2 separate regions of the Homo sapiens genome follow, and region 1 is linked to region 2. Evidence: fine-mapped expression QTL. A gene starts in region 2. The other region holds a variant in brackets. All regions are shown on one strand. Distances are between the middles of the regions. Region 1 overlaps LOC105375220 (a long non-coding RNA gene). Region 2 holds the start of CRHR2 (corticotropin releasing hormone receptor 2).

The links. PIP is the estimated chance that this variant, and not a neighbour inherited with it, causes the effect. A credible set is the group of variants that fine-mapping cannot tell apart.
Region 1: its variant is the best candidate, but not a certain one, in a credible set for the expression of CRHR2 in subcutaneous fat (TwinsUK, PIP 0.69).

What each region holds. Positions count from the first base shown.
Region 1 is chr7:30,710,159-30,719,782 of GRCh38, reverse strand. All of the region lies in intron 1 of LOC105375220 (a long non-coding RNA gene), which reads right to left. It overlaps LOC105375219 (a long non-coding RNA gene), which reads left to right. Exons shown (of 4, transcript XR_927156.3): 4 at 1,667-4,615. Among named protein-coding and RNA genes, the nearest start is that of CRHR2, 33 kb to the right of the region's middle. The variant T/A (reference allele first, on the strand shown) is at 4,747.
Region 2 is chr7:30,677,257-30,686,880 of GRCh38, reverse strand. It overlaps CRHR2 (corticotropin releasing hormone receptor 2), which reads left to right and starts at 4,425. Exons shown (of 12, transcript NM_001883.5): 1 at 4,425-4,703; 2 at 4,841-4,966. The coding sequence starts at 4,601. LOC124901608 (a long non-coding RNA gene) reads right to left here and starts at 4,262. Exons shown (of 2, transcript XR_007060275.1): 1 at 3,808-4,262; 2 at 110-1,164. RefSeq lists a silencer at 4,354-4,403.

The DNA.
Region 1 (9,624 bases), 33 kb before region 2:
GAGGAAAGGAAGAGTAAATGGATGGATGGATGGATGGATGGATGGATGGATGGATGAATGGATGGATGGATGAATGATGGATGGATGGATGGATGGATGGATGGATGGATGGATGAATGGATGCATGAATGATGGATGGATGGATGATGGATGAACGGATGGATGGATGGATGGATGGATGATGGATGGATGGTGTAGGGAAGAGAAAGAGAGATCAGACTGTTACCGTGTCTATGAAGAAAGGGAAGACATAAGAAGCTCCATTTTGACCTGTACCTTGAACAATTGCTTTGCCCTGAGATGCTGTTAATCTGTAACTTTGCCCCAACCTCTTTGCCCCAACCTTGAGCTCACAAAAACATATGTTGCGTGGAATCAAGGTTTAAGGGATCTACAGCTGTGCAGGATGTGACTTGTTAACAAAATGTTTACAAAGAGTATGCTTCATAAAAGTCATCGCCATTCTCAAGTCTTGATAAATCAGGGGCACAGTGCACTGCAGAAAGCCACAGGGAACTCTGCCCTGGAAAGCCGGGTATTGTCCAAGGTTTCTCCCCATGTGATAGTCTGAAATATGGCCTCGTGGGATGAGAAAGACCTGACCGTCCCCCAGCCCGACACCTGTAAAGGGTCTGTGCTGAGGTGGATTAGTAAAAGAGGAAAGCCTCTTGCAGTTGAGATAGAGGAAGGCCACTGTCTCCTGCCTGCCCCTGGGAACTGAATGTCTTGGTATAAAACCCCATTATACATTTGTTCAATTCTGAGATAGGAGAAAAACCACCCTATGGAGGGAGGTGAGACATGTTGGCAGCAATGCTGCTTTGTTATTCTTTACTCCACTGAGATGTTTGGGTGGAGAGAAACATAAATCTGGCCTACGTGCACATCCAGGCATAGTACCTCCCCTTGAACTTAATTATGACACAGATTCTTTTGCTCACATGTTTTCTTGCTGACCTTCTCCCTATTATCGCCCTGCTTTCCTACTGCATTCCTCTTGCTGAGATAGTGAAAATAATAATCAATAAAAACTGAGGGAACTCAGAGACTCGTGCAGGTCCTTGGTATGCTGAGTGCCAGTCTCCTGGACCCGCTGTTGTTTCTCTATACTTTGTCTCTGTGTCTCATTTCTTTTCTCAGTCTCTCATCCCACCTGACGAGATATACCCACAGGTGTGGAGGGGCAGGCCACCCCTTCATCTGCCGCCCAACATGGGTGCCTTTCTCTAGGGTGAAGGTACGCTAAGAACGTGAGCATTGAGGACAGCCAAGGAGAGATTCCCGAGTATGTCTATGGTCAGCCTTGTGGTAAGCTTGTGTGCTTGGAGGTACCCAGGGTAACAATGGGGCAAACTGAAAGTAAATATGCCTCTTATCTCAGCTTCATTAAAATTCTCTCAGGAAGAGGGGGAGTTAAAACTTCTACAGAAAATCTAATTATGCTATTTCAAACAATAGAACAATTCTGCCCATGGTTTCCAGAACAGGGAACTTCAGATCTAAAAGATTGGGAAAAAATTGGCAAAGAGGTTGGGGCAAAGTTACAGATTAACAGCATCTCAGGGCAAAGCAATTGTTCAGGGTACAAGTCAAAATGGAGTTTCTTATGTCTTCCCTTTCTACATAGACACAGTAACAATCTGATCTCTCTTTCTTTTCCCTACAGATGGATGAATAGATGGGCACTCATCTACAGGATTCTGATACAGTCATGGCATGCACCACATTGTCTCATCTTGGGACTAAACATCCCAGTATGACAGCTAGGAAGGATTCAATTAATCCCTATTCATTAATTCAAGGCAGCATAAGAGATGATCCAGGGTGTGGCTTCAGGAGTCAGGCTGCCTGAATTCAAATTCCTATTCCAAGATTTCCTAGCTGTTCTACCTTGGGAAAGTTGCTATATCTCCCTGAGTCTCAATTTCTCCATTTGCAAAGCAGAAATAATGAGAGTACCAACACATAGCGTGGTTGTGAGAATTAGATTATTTATATTAAGTGCTTAACACAGTGCTTGGTGGATAGAGAAAACTAAAAATAATATTAATTATTATTATAAATTACTATTAATTTCATGGTTGCTTACCGTGTCCTTTTCTTTATTATTAATAATAAGATAACAGAGATACTGCCCAGTAACCCAATTTCCTTCAGTGTTAGAGTCAATGGCCTTACAATGGCCCACAGGGCCCTGCATGACCTTGCTTCATGTCTTGTCTGGCCCTGCCTTCCATCTCCCTCCCTCTTTTCCTCTCTGCTCTTGCCACACTGTGCTTCAAACATGCCAGGCATGCTCCTGCTCAGGCTCTTGGCAGCCGCTCCCTACCAGGCTCATCCTCCAGAGGGCCTCATGACCCACTCCCTCACCTCCTTCAAGTCTTTGTTCTGATATCCCCTTCTCAGTGAGGTCTTCCCCCGCCCCTTTTAAATTGCCCATTCTGCCCTATCCCTGGCACTCTAATCTCCCTTCCTGCCTTAACTTTATCCCCATGGCACCTACCAAGATGTGACTCACCATGCACTTAACTTAGTCATCTTGTTTATTGTCAACTTCCCATAGCAGAATCTCAGATCTATGAGGGCAGTGAGTTATAGCTCTTCTGTTTCCCAGTGCTACAGCAGTGCCTGCGCAGAGTAGGCATTCAATAAATAGTTGTTGAATGAATAAATGATATATTGTGAGGATATTCCAGGCCTTGCTGCCTATGTCCAAAATCCCTAATCAAAGTTGAAAGGAGGCAGACATCCAAATGGAAGTGGAAACAGTTCTCAGAAACCTAGAGAGGCATCATGAAGGAGGTGGCCTTTTCCTTGAGTCTTAGAGGGTGTCCTTAGGTAGAGCTGGGGGTGGGGGACATTCCAGGCTATGGCTGACATCCGCCAAGGCCCTGCAAAGAGGAAGCGTCAGATGATGTGCAGCACAGGGGTCCCTTAAAACAGGCCAACCCTTGTTTCAGGGAGAAAGCTTAGAAAGTGGTACAGGTGACTGTAGTGCCATGAGCTAGGTTTTTGCACAGACTGTAGGGGAGAGTGCCAGGTCAGAGGCAGCCCTGGAAAATCTCATCCCAGCCAGGCAGGCAGACCCAGAGAGGTGCAGCTAGCCTTTCCATCAGCGTGGCAGCAAGAAGGATGGCCTACACTGAGCAGATGCAGAAGTGAGCTTTCCTGCCTGCCCCTTTCTGCACTGAGCCTCAGAACCTCCAGCCCACACTGGAGCTAGAGTGAAGGCACTCAGTTGGGGTGAGTGAAGCCCTTCCTCTAGAAGAGTTACACTCAAAATGGACCCACCTCTTCCACATGGCAGGATGCTGCCCCCTCCAAGCAGGGCACAAAGGAGGCTGCCAAGAAGGCAGAGGCCTGGCCTGGCAGACCCAGCTCTGCTCAGCCCCCACAGATCTGAGCTTGACAAGGGCTGCAGGAAGAAGAAGGGCAGGGCCCTGTGAGTGCTCAGCCTGCACTGAGCCTTCACTCTGGGGTGAGATGGAGGACCCACATTCAGAACCTAGCTTTGCCGCTTAGCTGTGCTGGGCAATACCTTTGAAGTCTCTCAGCCTCACTTTCCTCATCTAGAACAACTGGACCAGGCTGGGTCAATCTGGGGTTTGGAAGTGGGATTCAGAAAAACATTCAGAAACTTGAAAACTGGGGGGCTCAGGGTGCTGTTCTGGGGAAACCTATGGAGTCCATGGACATGAAAAAGCACAGAAAGCTGGTTCACAGGGAGAGGAGGAGGACGCCTGAGGGAGACCAGGGTGCCCTCAGGGAGGCGAGGGAGGTGCAGCCTGGGTTACTGATGGCTCTTCCCAATCCACGGCTGCATTTCCAGCCCGGGGTTACCTGAGACACCCCATGTCCTTATAATGCATTCTCCTTTTTTTCTCAATTTGCTTAGAAAAGATTTCAAGTGTGTTTCCATGTGGGGTAGGGCCCACGTGCTCTTTTACAAAGGGCCCTTGCTACTCCTCTGCTAAAGAGGTGGAAACTATTTCCCCTCCACCCGTCCTGTTGCTGGTTTGCAATGAATGAAGCATCAATGACATTCTGGGCATTCCTGGTCCAGGTATCAAGAAGACCTGGCAGCTTCCACTTTTGCACTCTTGGAGGAGCCAGCTGCCATGTAAAAAGTGTCACTTCCCTGAAACCACTATGCTGTGAGGAAGCCTGAGCTAACCCACTTGGAGAGACCACATAGAGAGAGTTGTCCCTGGCTAGTCCAGCCATCCCAGCCCAGTTTCCAGACAGTAAATGAAGAACCCTTCTTGAATGTTCCAACCCCAGCAGACAACTCATGGAACTGTCCATTTGAAACTGGCCCAATTTTCCCATAGAACTGAAGCTTGAGAAACTTACATTTGTCTTATGAGTTCCTTTCTCAGGAAATCGACCATCAGGCCTCCCAGACAGGATCAAGAAACTGATACATTCCAGATCACCTTATCCAGACAATGAGAGGCCAGACCTCTCGTCTGACCATCTGTTGCCTGTTCACTAGCTCCTCTTCCTTCCCTGCTCTACAAACTCCTAACTTTGGTCAGCGAGAAAGTCAGATTTGAGACTTGTCTCCCATCTTCTGGTGGATGTCACCCATAATAAAGCCTTTCTTTCCTGGCAATACTTGGTGTCTCAGTGATTGGCTTTCTGCGCAGCAAGCAACCTAGGCTGAACCCCTGACATTCGGTAACACGTTGACAGCTGAGCTGCCCCCATTGAGCCCTCCTCAAATTGCAGAAACATGAGCAAATA[T/A]CTTATTTTTTTTTTACCACTACATCTTGGGGTAGTTTGTTATGCGGCAATAAATAATTGAAGCAAGTTGTAGTCAAAAACACTATAATCCTCACTATGCACATCTATTGGGCTCCTGAGTTCAGACAGTGACAGTTCTGATAGTGAGGGACATCCAGTTAGGAGGTGAGGTGAGGGCCCCAGCCTGGTCTCTGGCTGTGCCACTCTGTCATTCTATGTGTCAGAAATGTCTTCCTCACCTGCACCCCAGCCTGCTCCCATGAACATCCCTCCTGGACTAGGTCAGTGATCTGGAACCTCACAGACAACCTGCCCAGAGCCACACCACTCTTCTCCTCCCTTACCAGTGTCTTTACTAAGCACCTAATTTATTCCACAAGCAGTTCCTCTACCAACGGCCAATATGAAAATATGCTCTACCTCATGAGTAAGCAGAGACATGCCAATTAAAGCAAGAATGAGATTCACCTTCCTGCTTATCAGATTGGCAAAATGAAGATTGAGGGTTGTTATAGACTGGGGTGGGACATATTGGGGGCCTCAGGTGCTGGGAGGCAAGCAATTTGAAGGGTGGTTTAGCAGCATTATTGAAATACAAAGTGTGCATAGCCTCCAATTCAGCAATTCCACTTCTGAGTTTACAACTTGGAGAAATATTTACATATGTTACACAAGGGGGCACATGAAAAATGTTCTCTGCAGCAGAGTTCATCACTGTGAAACTGAAAATGTACCACACCTCCACTAATAAGGGCATGTATCCTTGCTCTGGTACAAAAGGCAGCTGTTAACATAAATGGTATTTTATGCCATATTTATGCCATAACATAGGTAACATATAGATGACACACATGTGATATACAGCACAAAACTACTGGCTTGGAAAGTTCTCTAAGACACATTGCGGAGTGAAAAGAGCATCCATAAAGTATATTTGTGTAAACACCCTCACAAAAAATGGAAATACAAAAATTCAAATGTAAATGCAAAATTTTAAGTGTGGAAAGAAACTCAGGAAACTGATAAGAAGTCTTCTCAGGGGAGGCAGATGGTATTGGGAGGGCCAAGGGGGACATTTGTCTTATTTCTATTTTTTAATAATGATAATGTATTTATGTATTTCTTATGTTATTAAAAATAATTCTTGAAGTAAGTATTTATGAGTGTCCATGGAGCTTCCAAGATAGTGGGGGCAGCTGAGAAGAGTCCAGGCTGGGGAGAGAGCAAGGGCTGGAGAGCAAGACTTCGGGGGCTATAGGAGCACAGGGCTGGGAGATTACCGAGGGCTGGCGCAGTTAGGGAAGGCAGCCTGGAGGAGAACCATCCCCCCAACAAAATGCTGGTGGGAGCTGAGTAGCTGATGAGGAGGACCTGTACAAGCCTAAGCAGGGTGCTTTGCTGCTGGGGAGCTGCATAGGGAGCCTCTGGCTCAGACAGGAAATGGGATTGGGCAACCTTGGAGAGTTTGCCCTGCCCCTAGCCGCCCCCATGCTCTGATTGCTTGGGTTGCTCTGCCTGTGAAGCTAGGTAGCCAGGACCAGGACAGCAGGGATGCAGGACTTGATGGGTCACCATTGCTCACGGCTCAGGAGCGCACAAACACACACACAAACACACACACACACACACATGACTTATTCTGCCCCCAGAAAGACTTTATGCTCGTCCTCATAACATCCAACCATTTTGGCACCCATCCATCCATTGACTCCTCCAATGATGATTGAGAACTTGCTATGTGCCTACTTGCTATGGGCCTAGTGCTGTGCCTCAGCCACTAGCCCTCCTTTGGAGGCCCAGGTCACTACAGATGGAAGGACCCTAAGGATTCATCTAGTCCAAACTTCACCCATTTTATAGATAAGAACACGGCCGTGACTTACTCATAGGAAGCAGGGCCAGAACCAGGACTAGTCAGGTGTCAGGTAAATCCCCTTACTCCCTGCACCTATCCTTTCTACCTACATCTTTCCTTCAACTCTGTATCCCAGACCCACATCACACCTGCATGCAGAGAGAACTCAAAAATATTTGGTTCAACAAATGATTCAGTAAATGAATGAGTGAGTTATGAATAAGTAAAAAATAGGTAATGCTGGATTTCTCATCAGAGAGAAGAAAGAAGAAAGAGATCGTCTTCAGGGATATGAAGAGATTTCCGCCCTGCTCTTCAGGCTGAATCTTGGGTGGCACACTTGTATAGGGAGGAGAAAGGTTCTGGGCAGCTGGAGGGCATGTTTGTGCTTCAGTTCTAGATGTTCACTGGATCAGTATGTGCACATCTCTGCCTGTCAGGCCAGACCCACAGCAATGCTGGGAGACAGGAACTTAGTCCAGGGCAATAGTTCTCAAATGCCAGCTTGCATTAGAATAAACTTGAGGACTTTTAAAACACAGATTGCTGCTCCCCCACCCCCAGAACTTCTGATTCAGTGACTCTGAGGTAGGCCCTAGAGTTTGCATTTCTAGCATGTTCCCGGGTGATGCCGCTGCTGCTGATCTGGGATGGCAGAATTTCTCAATCCTGGCTGCACAGTGGAATCACCTGGATAGCCCTGACCCCAGCAGGTGCTCAGCCTGCATCCTTGACCGACTGCCTCAGAATCTCTGGAGAAGAGACCTAGACGGCAGAGCTTCTCAAACCTCACCTAAGGTGAAGGGCCAGAATTTTCTTTCATTACTGTCAATCAATGGTGGATGAATATTTCTGAGAAATACAACAAAAACAGATCTTCAGAAAAAAATGAAACAAACCATAAAGATCTACAAAATGTATGTTCACATTGTACTTATTAGATTCAGCAAACACAAAACTACTCTATCACTTGCCATAAAAGTTTCTAAACACTTACTCTCAATTTCTGTACTTCTTGAAGGCTAGTGGCCAAAATTTCACAAGTTGGCAGCATCTAGGATCATCCTCTTTTGAGTAGTCCTAGGTTAGAACTTCTGTAATCTCAGAGCCGGTCACAAGTCAAAGATGACCAACAGCTTAACCTAGCTTTCTCTGGGGGAGTAATCTCTTGCCTCTCTATCTATATCTACAGCCTCAAATCTACATGGGCATCAAATCCTCTTCCCTGTATCTATGGGGTTTGTCTTTATAAGGGCCAGAGTTGGGGGATTTTCTGAAATATTTTACAAAACACTGGCCAGGTACAGTAGCTCAAACCTGTAATCCCAACACTTTGGGAGGCCGAGGTAGGTGGATCACTTGAGGCCAGGAGTTCAAGACCAGCCTGGCCAACATGGTAAAACCCCATCTCCACTAAAAATATAAAAATTAGTCAGGCATGGTGGTTCATGCCTCTAGTCCCAGATATTTGGGTGCCTGAAGCATGAGAATCACTTGAACCTGTGAGGCGGAGGTTGCAGTGAGCCAAGATCGCATCACTGCACTCCAGCCTGAGTGACGAGCAAGATTCTGTCTCAAAAAATAAAAAGTAAAAACACTGCAATGCAGAAAATCACTGGCAGAAGGCTTGCTTAGAGAGGTACTCTTTTGTTGTAGTTAGATTCCTAGTTGGGAAGTTAGCAGTTCTGGGTTCTGGTTTTAAATCTACCACTAACTAGCTAAGATACAAATCATATTTCTCAGGGTGTCATGCATCCTCCCTGAGAACTGGGTAGAAAAGCATCTCTGGTTCCTGCAATGTCATCACCATGGTTCTAATGATTAGAAACACATATTACCCATGGGATCAGTCATCAATGACCAGGAAGAAAATCATGGTGAGAACTTCTCAGAAAGAATCCCCTGGTTGGCTGGGTGTGGTGGCTCACGCCTGTAATCCCAGCACTTTGGGAGGCCGAGGTGGACGCATCACCAGAGGTCGGGAGTTCGAGACCAGCCTGACTAACATGGAGAAACCCTGTCTCTACTAAAAATACAAAATTAGCCAGGCATGGTGGCGCATGCCTGTAGTCCCACTCAGGAGGTTGAGGCAGGAAAATCATTTGAACCTGGGAGGCAGAGGTTGCAGTGAGCCAAGATTGCGCCATTGCACTCCAGCCTGGGCAATGAGAATGAAATTCCATCTCAAAAAATAATAATTAAAAAAAAAAAAGAATTCCCTGGTTAACTAGTCACATGGCTTAGAGGTTATTAAACTGATGGCTGCTGTCCCTCCCTAGCAGTGTATGCTGGTGACTCAGCGCCAAACGTGCCAACTTGAGCTGTGATTTCTTTTCCCAAAGGCAGTATGTTGATTCTCTGACCTTTGAATCTTTTATTTGGTCACAGCCATGGATAAAGAAATGAACCTGGAGAAGCAGCGTAGCCTCTTCCCTAGAGGGACTTAAGTCCCAGCTCTGACAGGGACCAACTGTAGAAGCCTGAGCAAGCCCTTCCCCTCTCTGGGCCTCACTTTGCACATCTAAAATGAGGGGAATTAAGCTAGATGTTCTCTAAAGTTACTTGCAAAATTCTCTATTTTTGTATACAGTATTAATTTGCCAACTCTTGCTAGATTTTCATCAACAGTGCAAATATCTGTAAAAGATCAAAGTCACTTCTGGTGCCAATCATCAGGAGCAGGGTGGCCAGGGTGACCTCTTCCATCCAAGCCATATTTTGCTTTCACTCTTCCACTTGAAGCCTGTCACAGTAGCAGCTAGTCTTTGACTGAGGGTGTACGATGGGCCAGGCGCTGATTTAACCACTGGGCCTAGATTCATACATGTAGTTCCCCATGATCCAAAGAGGTAGGTACCATGAAAGGTACTATTGTCAGCTCCACTTTACAAAGGGAATTGTGAGCCAGAGAACGGAAGTCACTCACCCAAGGTCACACAGCTAGAGCACAGCAGACAGAATTCTCACCAGGCAATCTGGCTTTAGTCAATTCCTATTGAGCTCCTATTATGTGCATATAATAA
Region 2 (9,624 bases):
CACAGACTAATAATGACAAAGGGTCACGAATCTATGATCAATTCAATTGTATGCCCCTGAAAAAGGCAACGCATGCAAAATCACAGAGCAATTATGACTTCAGGCAGGGTTTAAATAGATTATTTCTATTTTATTCATCACAGAGGCAGCTACATATATTTGAAAAATATTAGGGCATATATTATGAGGCATATTATTTATCCTATCCATAGATGATATAAAAATCCAAATGGACTATTTATTTATTTTTTATTATTTTTTGTAGGCTGGTCTTGAATTCCTGTGCTCAAGCAATCTGCCTACCTTGGCTTCCCCAAGTGCTGAGATTATGGGTGTGAGCCACTGCACCTGGCCAAGAATCCGAATGGATTCAAAGATACCTTGAAATAATTCCTCAATGCAACACACACACATATGCCAGGGTTGGTCAAATGGGAAGAGAGCCTTGGCCTGAAGACAGGGACCTGGGCTTTCCTCAGCTCTTCTGCCAAGGTATCTGTCCTTTCTTAGTGACTCACTGGGCTGAAGTCTAGAGCATTCCAATGGGTGCTGGGGATGGGTTAGTGAACCAGGACCAGCCCTGCCCTTGGGGAGGCATGGGCTGGTAGATGAGACAATGAATAAAAAGCAACCTGGATGTGACATAGGCCAGCACCCAGCAGATGGGGTCACCAAGGAGCTGCATGTCTGAAGGATGAGTGTGGAGCTGTAAGGCCATTTCCAGTGCAGAAATACAAACAAGGAACAGAGATAGCGAATGGTTTCTGGTAGTGACACATTGTTCTGGAGGGCCTTTCAAATGAAGCAGGAGGGTGAGGATGGGGGACGATGATCATGAAGAACCTTCTTTGCAATACCAAAGATGGTTCCCAGGAATGACATGTTGTTCTGGAGGGCCTTTCAAATGGAGCAGAAGGGTGAGGATGAGGGATAGATGATTACGAAGGACCTTCTTTGCAATACCAAAGAGGTGGTCTCCATCTCAAGGGCAATGGGTTGGCGGCACTCCTATGAGGAAGAGTGACAGGATCGTAATTATAAAACATCGTTTTATCTGCCATGAGGAGACAGGGAGCCCATTTGGGCTGCTGCAGAGATGAGGATGGCCTGGGAGAAGTAAGGGAGGGAAACCTCTTTTGCTTGTCTGGGAATCCTATTGTCCATCTGTAAAACAAGAATGTGGGATTGGATGTCACTGAGAGTCCTTTCTGTCCCCACAGCTTAGTCCCATGGTTTGACATGAAGACACCAGGCCAATTCCTCTGTCCTGCAGTGGAGTAGGATAGGGTGAGGAGGGGGTGCCTGGCCTGGGACCCCTGTCTCCAGTGCTACAGGGCAAAAGTGCAGCACCTTCAGGCCCCTCTGGAACCTCTGTGCCCTCAGCAACCCCGTCGTAATTCCCAGGAAACACCACGACTATTCCAGCTGTGCCTGAATAGACTCCCTCTCTATGTAGTCTAACCAAGGACAGTCCCTTAGAGAAGCAAAGATGCATCCTGTCCCTTTAAATCCTGTTTTCCAGCTGACATTTGAGTGGTAGGGGATGAATTAGAGAGAGAATGTGTGTGCATGGTGAAGATGCATAACTGTGGCTCTGTGTGTGATTCTGTTGTGCCTACATGCCTGTTTGATGCCATGTATTAGGCTTTGCAAGTGTGTCTGAGCTGGCCTGGAACTGTCCACTGCTGCTGCAGCTGACATCAGAGGTGGGCCATGGGATGGGATGCAGGGCACCAGAGGCACCTGCCTTACTCTGCTGCTCATGGTACACAGGGGTCTTCCAAAGTACCTGTCACACTTCCCTGAACCTATTTGCCAACCTGTCCCCAACAGCTTGGGGACACACAAACTGTTCCAAATACTTATCCCCTAATTCCTGGCCTCCAGCTGGGATGGGGCTGGCCTGCAGCGCTGGGAACCCATCACTATCCCAAAGCCTCTAATCTACCTCTGCTTCTTTAGTTAGCAAAAATGCCCCTGTCTTTGTTTGTTTGTACTTGGATTTAGTAAAATTGAGGGAATTTTGGGGCTCTTCCCAATTTCTTCCTCATTTGCCTGTTTGCAGACACTAAAGTGAGCTGTAAAATCAATTTGTTCCCAAACTGCTACCTTTTCTAGTTTTCCCTCTGTCACATCTCGAATGACAACTGTGCCTATAATAATAAGATCCATGAAGAAATGGCCCCACATCCAGGGGACCTCGGGTCTGTGGGTCTGTGGGTATGTGCTCAGACCCCAACTGCTCATTCAGGATGCAGAACAGCCTTTGACTCTGCCACTGAAATGGTCACTTCCCAGAAGAATCTTTGGTATGTGAGCTCTCCCAGTTAAGAGCAATCCAGTTCACCCAGGCCAACCCTCTGTTCTGCAGAAATCTGCATGAGATGAGAAGTCCCTGGCCTCTGGTCATTGGGAGCACACCACCTCTTGACATAGCTGCATCTATAGGTGCTTTAGGCACCACCTAGGTGGTGGCTGCAGTAATGAACAAGGATAATAACTTAAGCTTGGCTTAGGATTTCTCCCTTCCTCTGTGCTGCACCGTGCTGTGTGAAGGGCTATCCCTTGTATATGAGGGACACTATTGCCCTGTGAATACATGGGCTGACCTGGCCAGCCACCCTCTGGCCTGTGTGGGACCCTGGGTAACAGGGCTCAGTCTAGGAGCGGAGGGTAGGACTCTGCCTAGGTCCTCCCCTGCTCCTGGCACTGGATAATATGAAGACCAAGGAACCTCTACCTCTGCAGCTGCCCAGAGCTGAGCCTGGGCTCTCACTGTCCATTCAGGAGGCAGAGGGTAGACCTGGCTGGCTGCTCAGCATCTTGTTCCTGCCAGTCAGCAGGCCCTGGAGAGATTCCAGGGCTCAGCCCTGGTCTTAGTGTGGTCTCACTCGCTCTGCCTGGGCAGTGACAGCACCATTAATATGGAGGCTGGTGAGAGCGGAGCACACAAAAGCAGCCTGCCTGCTGCTTTGCCTCTCTCTGCCCAGGGCATGGTGCTAGTTCATGGTGGTTTCAGCCTTTCCTAGCAGCTTAGGTTTATGTGGAGGATGGCAGGGGAACAGGACTGGTTTCTGAGACTAGGTTCCAGCTCTCCTTGCCCTCTAAAGATAGAAACAAACAACACACAACACACATGTATGTCTTCCCCAGACTCTCCGTCTCATAACTCAGAACCAGAGAGTCTCAGAGCTGAGAGGGGCCTCGGGGAAGATTTCACTGATGGAGAAAGCTCCAGAAGAGAGGGCAAGCATCCTGCCTGGGGTACCATGGCAGGGAGAGCAGAGTCAGAGGCTGGACCAAAATGCAGCCTGAGTGGAAGCATGCCTTACCCCAGGCCCTGCTTCCCGAGCCCAATGCCCCACTCAGCTGGCAGACACAGCAGGCCCGCCCTGGGCACTCTGAGGGTGCAGCCACAGCAGATCACCAAGGAGGCATTCTGGGCCAGGGTGGGGTGGGGGGCCTGGGCAAGTTCTCTGGGGAGGTTTCCAGCTCCTCCACACCTGCTGTGGGGCCTGATTCTCCCCGCCCCTGCCCCGCTACTGGTGTGGAAACCAGGGTCAGGTGAAGCCCTGCCCAAGCCTTGAGGAAGAGAGACACATTCTCACTTCTTCCTTTATTCTTTCTGGTGCCCAAGGCACTAACAACTGGGTGTATAAAGCCTTCCAGATAATTTCAGCCAATTTCTCCCCTAGACTTACTCCATCTGATTAAATGGCCACCCAGTCACTCAAGCAGGAGACCTGATGTTATCCCTGCCTCTGGGCTCCTACTTAAAACCAGCCACCCACTCCAGTTCCTCCTCACCAGGTCTGGCTGCCCCTCCGAAATCTCTCTCCATTCCAGCTTCCACGGTCTGATCCAAGGACTTCAACCCACTCAGGCCACTTGATCTCATTAGACTCATGGGTGTCTCCCTGCTTCCCTCCAGGCCTCCTCGATACATTTCCTTCCCAGAGGCTATGGAGGCTTTTGGAGGATGCAGATCTGCCCATGGGCTCTCCGTCTCTGCCTCCCTCCAGTGTCCTCGCTCAGGGAGGGGAAGCTCAGGCGGAAAGCTGCCGAACTTTGGGTTGCGGCTGTCCCTCGATTAGCAGAGCTGCGGTGTTCTCCTCGGGCAGGCGGGCAGGTGGGCGCGCTTTGCTGCCCCCTGCAGCTCGGGGGCCTGCGATCCCCGCACAGAGCATTCCGTCACCCCAGGCCCACGCTCTCCAGCCCACCGCCCTCCTCTGGACGCCGCGAGTGGAAGAGAGCTGCGAACTGAGAAGCCGTACTTTGGGCAGGGTGGAGGGCCCGGGGGCTGGAGACTGAGCCCCTCCGAGAGGAGCCGCCCGGCCCCGCCCCCCGGCGCAGCCATTGGCCGCGGCGGAGCGGCTGTACCCGCAGCTCCGTGCACTCGGCGGCTCCTCTCCGGGAAGGTCCCCACTTGACAGCTCTGGGCGACCGGAGGTGGCGCCCAAAGGCTGCCCGGGAGATCGGGGCTGGGCTGGCGGGGGCCAGGACCCCGCGCCCTCTCGGCCGCTCACTCTCGCGTCCACTCCCTCGCAGTCACGCCGGGCGCGCACTCCCACTCCCTCTCCGCACGCGGCTGCGGGACGCGATGGACGCGGCACTGCTCCACAGCCTGCTGGAGGCCAACTGCAGCCTGGCGCTGGCTGAAGAGCTGCTCTTGGACGGCTGGGGGCCACCCCTGGACCCCGAGGGTAGGCGGGAGGCGAGCGGTCGGAGGCTGCGCGGGCTCCTTCTCTCGCGCGCTGGGTGCGCCCCTGACCCCGCGCTCCGAGAGCCCCGCGTCCCTGCGGGCCCCTCTGAGCCCTACTGCGCTCTCTCCCGCCGCCAGGTCCCTACTCCTACTGCAACACGACCTTGGACCAGATCGGAACGTGCTGGCCCCGCAGCGCTGCCGGAGCCCTCGTGGAGAGGCCGTGCCCCGAGTACTTCAACGGCGTCAAGTACAACACGACCCGTGAGTGCCCCCGGCCCTCGCTGCCTGCTCTACACCGGCCTCCTGAGAAGGCGGTTTAGGGAGTAAAGAGGATTCCGGACCCAGCGGTACAAAGCTGCTGACGGCCGCGGTACCGCGGACCGCGGGCGTTAAGGACCCCTTACAGTGTTGGGGGCGCGCCTTCTGCTTCTACCCCCAATACAGCGTCTAATCTCAGTAAGCCAGTGATTTGCCCACAATTCCCGTGCTCCATGCGGTGACAGCCCAAAAAGGGGAGAAGGAAATACTTCCTCCTCTTGGAGTGTAAACCTCCTTCCCTCATTGTAGGTTCCCGTTGCCTGAAGTTCCCCATTAGGGCTTCATTGTTTAGACAATGCTTCCCCTGCCCAGGAGGGGGACCTATCCCAGGAGGGCGGATATGCTAAGTCCCAAATCCCCCAGAGTGAGTGCAGTGACCAGACCCTACTACCAGAGGGGAGGAGGAGGGTAGGAGGCAGGAGGGCTGGGGCGAGCGCATGTTTCGTGGGGAGGACATGCAGGCGTAGGTTCTGCTAAGCCAGAGGGTGCGGGGTGTTGCATCTTCCCTAATCCGAGGTCCCAGGACTGACCTGCTGGGCTGAGTCAGGGGCTGTGGGCAGCATTATTCCTGCGCCCCCATAATGAGTGGTGTCTGAATCAGCACCCCAACACCATCTCTCAAGGAGAACAACCTGTGCCTGCCTTCCTCCTGGCAAATCATGGACTGGCTTGAGGCTCTGGGGAAAAGGGCAGTAGAGGTTGCTGGAGTTACACAGCCTCCAGGTGGGGTCGTTCAGTGTGGGTTCTGGGTGTGTGCGTGTGGGTAGGTGCCTGTCTGTGCCCTGTGGAACATGGGATGGGAGCCAGGTGTGTGGTCTGCGGGAGGCTGTGGGGGCAGCAATCACTGCCCCACCTAGAACCCCCCTGATATCTCCAGCCGGACCCCAGTTGTCAAGCACGCTGAGACCCTATCTGGATTGTTTGTCTGAAGCCTCTCATCCTGGAAACATCCTCAGAGTGTCTGTGTCTGATTGGTAGCCCAGCTCCACCTCCACCACACATACACACACACACACACACACACACACACACACACACAAGCTTTCAGAAGCTGAGGCTGAGGGCTTTGCCATGAGAGATGGTTAGAAGGCAAGAGAGATGTACCTGCACCTGATGCCAAGCCGCACTCTCCTGGCTGCACCAGCTGAGGGCTCTGGTGGGCCCAGGGAGCACATGCTTCCCATCCATGATTAAAACAGATCTCCCTAGAAGGAAGTAAGATCCCCAAGCTAGGAGGTGTGCAAGCAGAAGGAATGATTTCCCTGTGCCTTCCTAGTCCTGACCTTATAAAACTGTATTTTTAGGATTCCGTGAGCTGTGTGGGGTGGGGCAATGGAGATCAGCATGCCTGATTCAGACTGGGCCCGGAGATTAAGGGCCATCCAGGGTAAAGTGGGGTGATGGAGCATCTCAGCCCACAGCCTGTGAACCTCAGGGAGCTCTGCTTTCGTTCTTACCCCAGCCTGGGCTATGCCTTGTTCTCCCCGACCAGCCTGGGGGCCCCCCCTTCCCAGGGCCTGGGTCTCTTCTTCATAGCCAAGCTGAGTACAGTAATACTCAGTCAATTTGTGGAATACCCACTATGTGCCAGCCACTGCACAGGCACTGTATTGAGGCTCTCACTCACAATTGCAACAGACAAAAAGAACAGAATGATGAATGCCCTAATTAGGGGGGAAGCACAAGGTCTATGGGATTGGGGTGTGGGGGCGGGGTGACAAGGAAGACTTCCCAAAGGTGCTGCAGACAGCACATATCAGGCCATTCATATCAATTAAGTCTAATGAGAAGCTGATAAAAGGTTGGGGCACCACCCAGGCTGGTAAAAGTAGGGCCAATTAGCCCCTGGTATCTAATGAACAATTTTCTTCATTTAGACCAAAGTGCTGCCTGCACTGCAACTGCTGGAGAATGAGAGGAGCTTGTGGAGGGTGGGGAGCACTTACCACTAACCAGCACCTGGGGTGTGAGGTCAGCCTAGGTGGGAAGAGCAGAGGCTGCTAATGGCTGTGGAAATGCATGATTGATTTCCCTCCTCCCCTTTCTTCACATCAGTGCTGCTTCCTGCTTCTCTGTTTGCCTTTTCCTTGGGATCCTTCCTTTAAAAAGAATGACAGAGGGAGAAACCTCCACGAGAAGCCTAGGGGAAGAACAGGAGCGTTCAGGCTCCACTTCCTGCCCCAATTTTGTTATGCTATAGCCAAACCCGCATTGAAGCCTCATTCCTTAGAGAGCAGGAATCGCCCGGGTGGGGATAGCAGTTTAGATATTAGTCTCTGCGATTTTTCAACTCAGCTGAGCACAGAGAATCTGCCACAAAGCTAAGTGTTGATCATTTTCCAGGTGCCAGCTACCACTGAGAGAGCTTTGTATCCATATCTCAGGCATCCATAATCCCACTCGCCCACACTCCCTCTGAGATACATACTGCTTTTATGCCCATATTGCAGGCAAGAACACTGAGTCTCAGACACATGAAGTAACTTATTGAAAGTCCTAATCAGCTCCTATGCACCAGTGCAGGCAGGTGAATCCACAGCCCTCGCTATTAACCATGGGGCAGTACTCCCTCCACAAGAGGCATTCGGTTTGCGAGGAGAGCTTAGAGGTTTGGAAAGAAGACTCATACCTCCGGCCTGGAGGATCAGGGAGGACTTAGCCCTCTGAGCTGGACTTCTGGGGACAGGTTGGATTTTAGCAGGTGAGTGTAATAGGCACAGGAGAGGCCCTCTAGGCTGAGGGGACTGAGCAAAGGCAAGGAGACAGGCTGGGCTTTGTGCCTTGGGAGGAGTGTGTTGTATGGAGAACAGGGAGTAGGAGAAAGAAACAATGAGGCTGGGGAGGGGCATGGAGGTCAGGTGATGCAGGGCATTCTACAGGGCTTCACCATCTGGAGAGGGAGCCTGGGTGAGCTTGTGAGCAGAGAAGCTCAATTTTGGGAGCACACTGTCCTCTGGAGGGAAAGGAGAAGTAAGGGGATTTCTGCACAGACCCAGGTAGACCGCAGGCTGTAAGAGCAAATGAGGTTGAAGACGCCAGCAACCTTGGGCATTTGAAATTGACAAGATATGGTGAGAGATGGCAAGGTAAAGGTTGGGCACACAGGAAACAGCTGAGCACAGTTGGGGATGTGTTGACTTTGAGGAGCTGGAGGGACAGCTGAGTGGAGATGTTCAGGAAGCAGCTGGTTGGGTGGGGGAAAAGCTCAAGAGAGCACCAAGAGTGGAGATAAGGCGTTTAGAAGTCCTCAGGATGTGGGGTTAGCAAATAGCTACAGTGTGTGAGTTTGGGAGGCTGGGTCAGAGCCTTGAGCCATCTTACCCAGAGTTATTTCCAGATGCAGCAGGGCCAAGGGAAGGGAAGGGACTAGCGCATGGCCACACATGTTAGTCAGTGGCAGAGCCAAGTTAAGCACACGAGTCTCCTTGGGTGTTCTCTACACAACCTGTGCTGGCGCTTCAGTGGCTGAGCTTCCACATGTTTGTACTGTGGTTTAACTCATTTAATCCTTGCACCATCGAGTGACAGAGACATGGCATTATCCTCATTTTACACATGGGGAAACTGAGGTGTGGAGCAATGAAGTCACTTGTAACAGAACAAGGATTCAAACCCAGGTTCTGCTGCCTTTCAAAAAGCAACTCTGCTAGGTTAAGCAGAGAAGAAATTTTTTAAAAAGATATTGGGGAGCTTATGGAATCACTGAGTGGGCTAGAGAACCAGATTTGGGGCCCCAAGCCAAGAACACAGGGCAGAGCTGGCCCTGTGAGGGGACCTCCCTCTCCCTGAAAGGCCCTGCCAACACCACCAGCCCTGGCCACCACTAGTGGCATGATCAAAGATCACTGCAATCTCAAACTCCTGTGCCCAAGCAATCCTCCTGCCTCAGCCTCCCGAGTAGCTGAGACTGCAGGCACATGCCACCACACCTGGCTAATTTTTAAATTTTTTGTAGAGTTGGGATCTTGCCATTTTGCCAGAGCTGGTCTTGAACTCCCAGACTCAAGCGATCCTCCTGTCTCTGGCTCCCAAAGTGCTGGGAGTATAGGCGTGAGCCACTGCACCTGGCCAACCTGGAGTCTTAAGCTTCCTGCAGTTATCTCTGGAGAGGCTTTCTCCCTGTCTCCATCTGGGGGCCTCCAGTTCACTAATTCCCTCGGGTAGGTGCATCTGATGGGTGGGGGAATATGTGGAGCCCCAAATCCCATGCCAAAGCTCTGGCTACAAGGGATCCTGGGAAGTAAGGATCTGGCATTTTAGCTCTAGGCGGGGAGGTAGCCTCGGTCTTACCCCAGGATTCTCCGAACCCAGGTTCAAATCCTGGGTGGCTAGAAACAATCCTAAATGTCCATATACAATTTAATTGGGGCAAGTCTCATCCCTTTTGTGGGCCTGTCTCCCTGTCTGTAGGCCGAAAGGAAGTGGATTAGCATGGAAGTGGTTTGGCCAGAAGTGGGGCACTTATATTCCATTTTCCTCCCACCTCTCCCCATTCCACACGGACTCCTCTGAGCCCATCTCTGTGTGTACATCTCTGTCTCTGTGTCTCTCTCATTGTCTCCCTGTCTGTTTCTGATTTTCTCTATGTGTGGTTCTGTTTC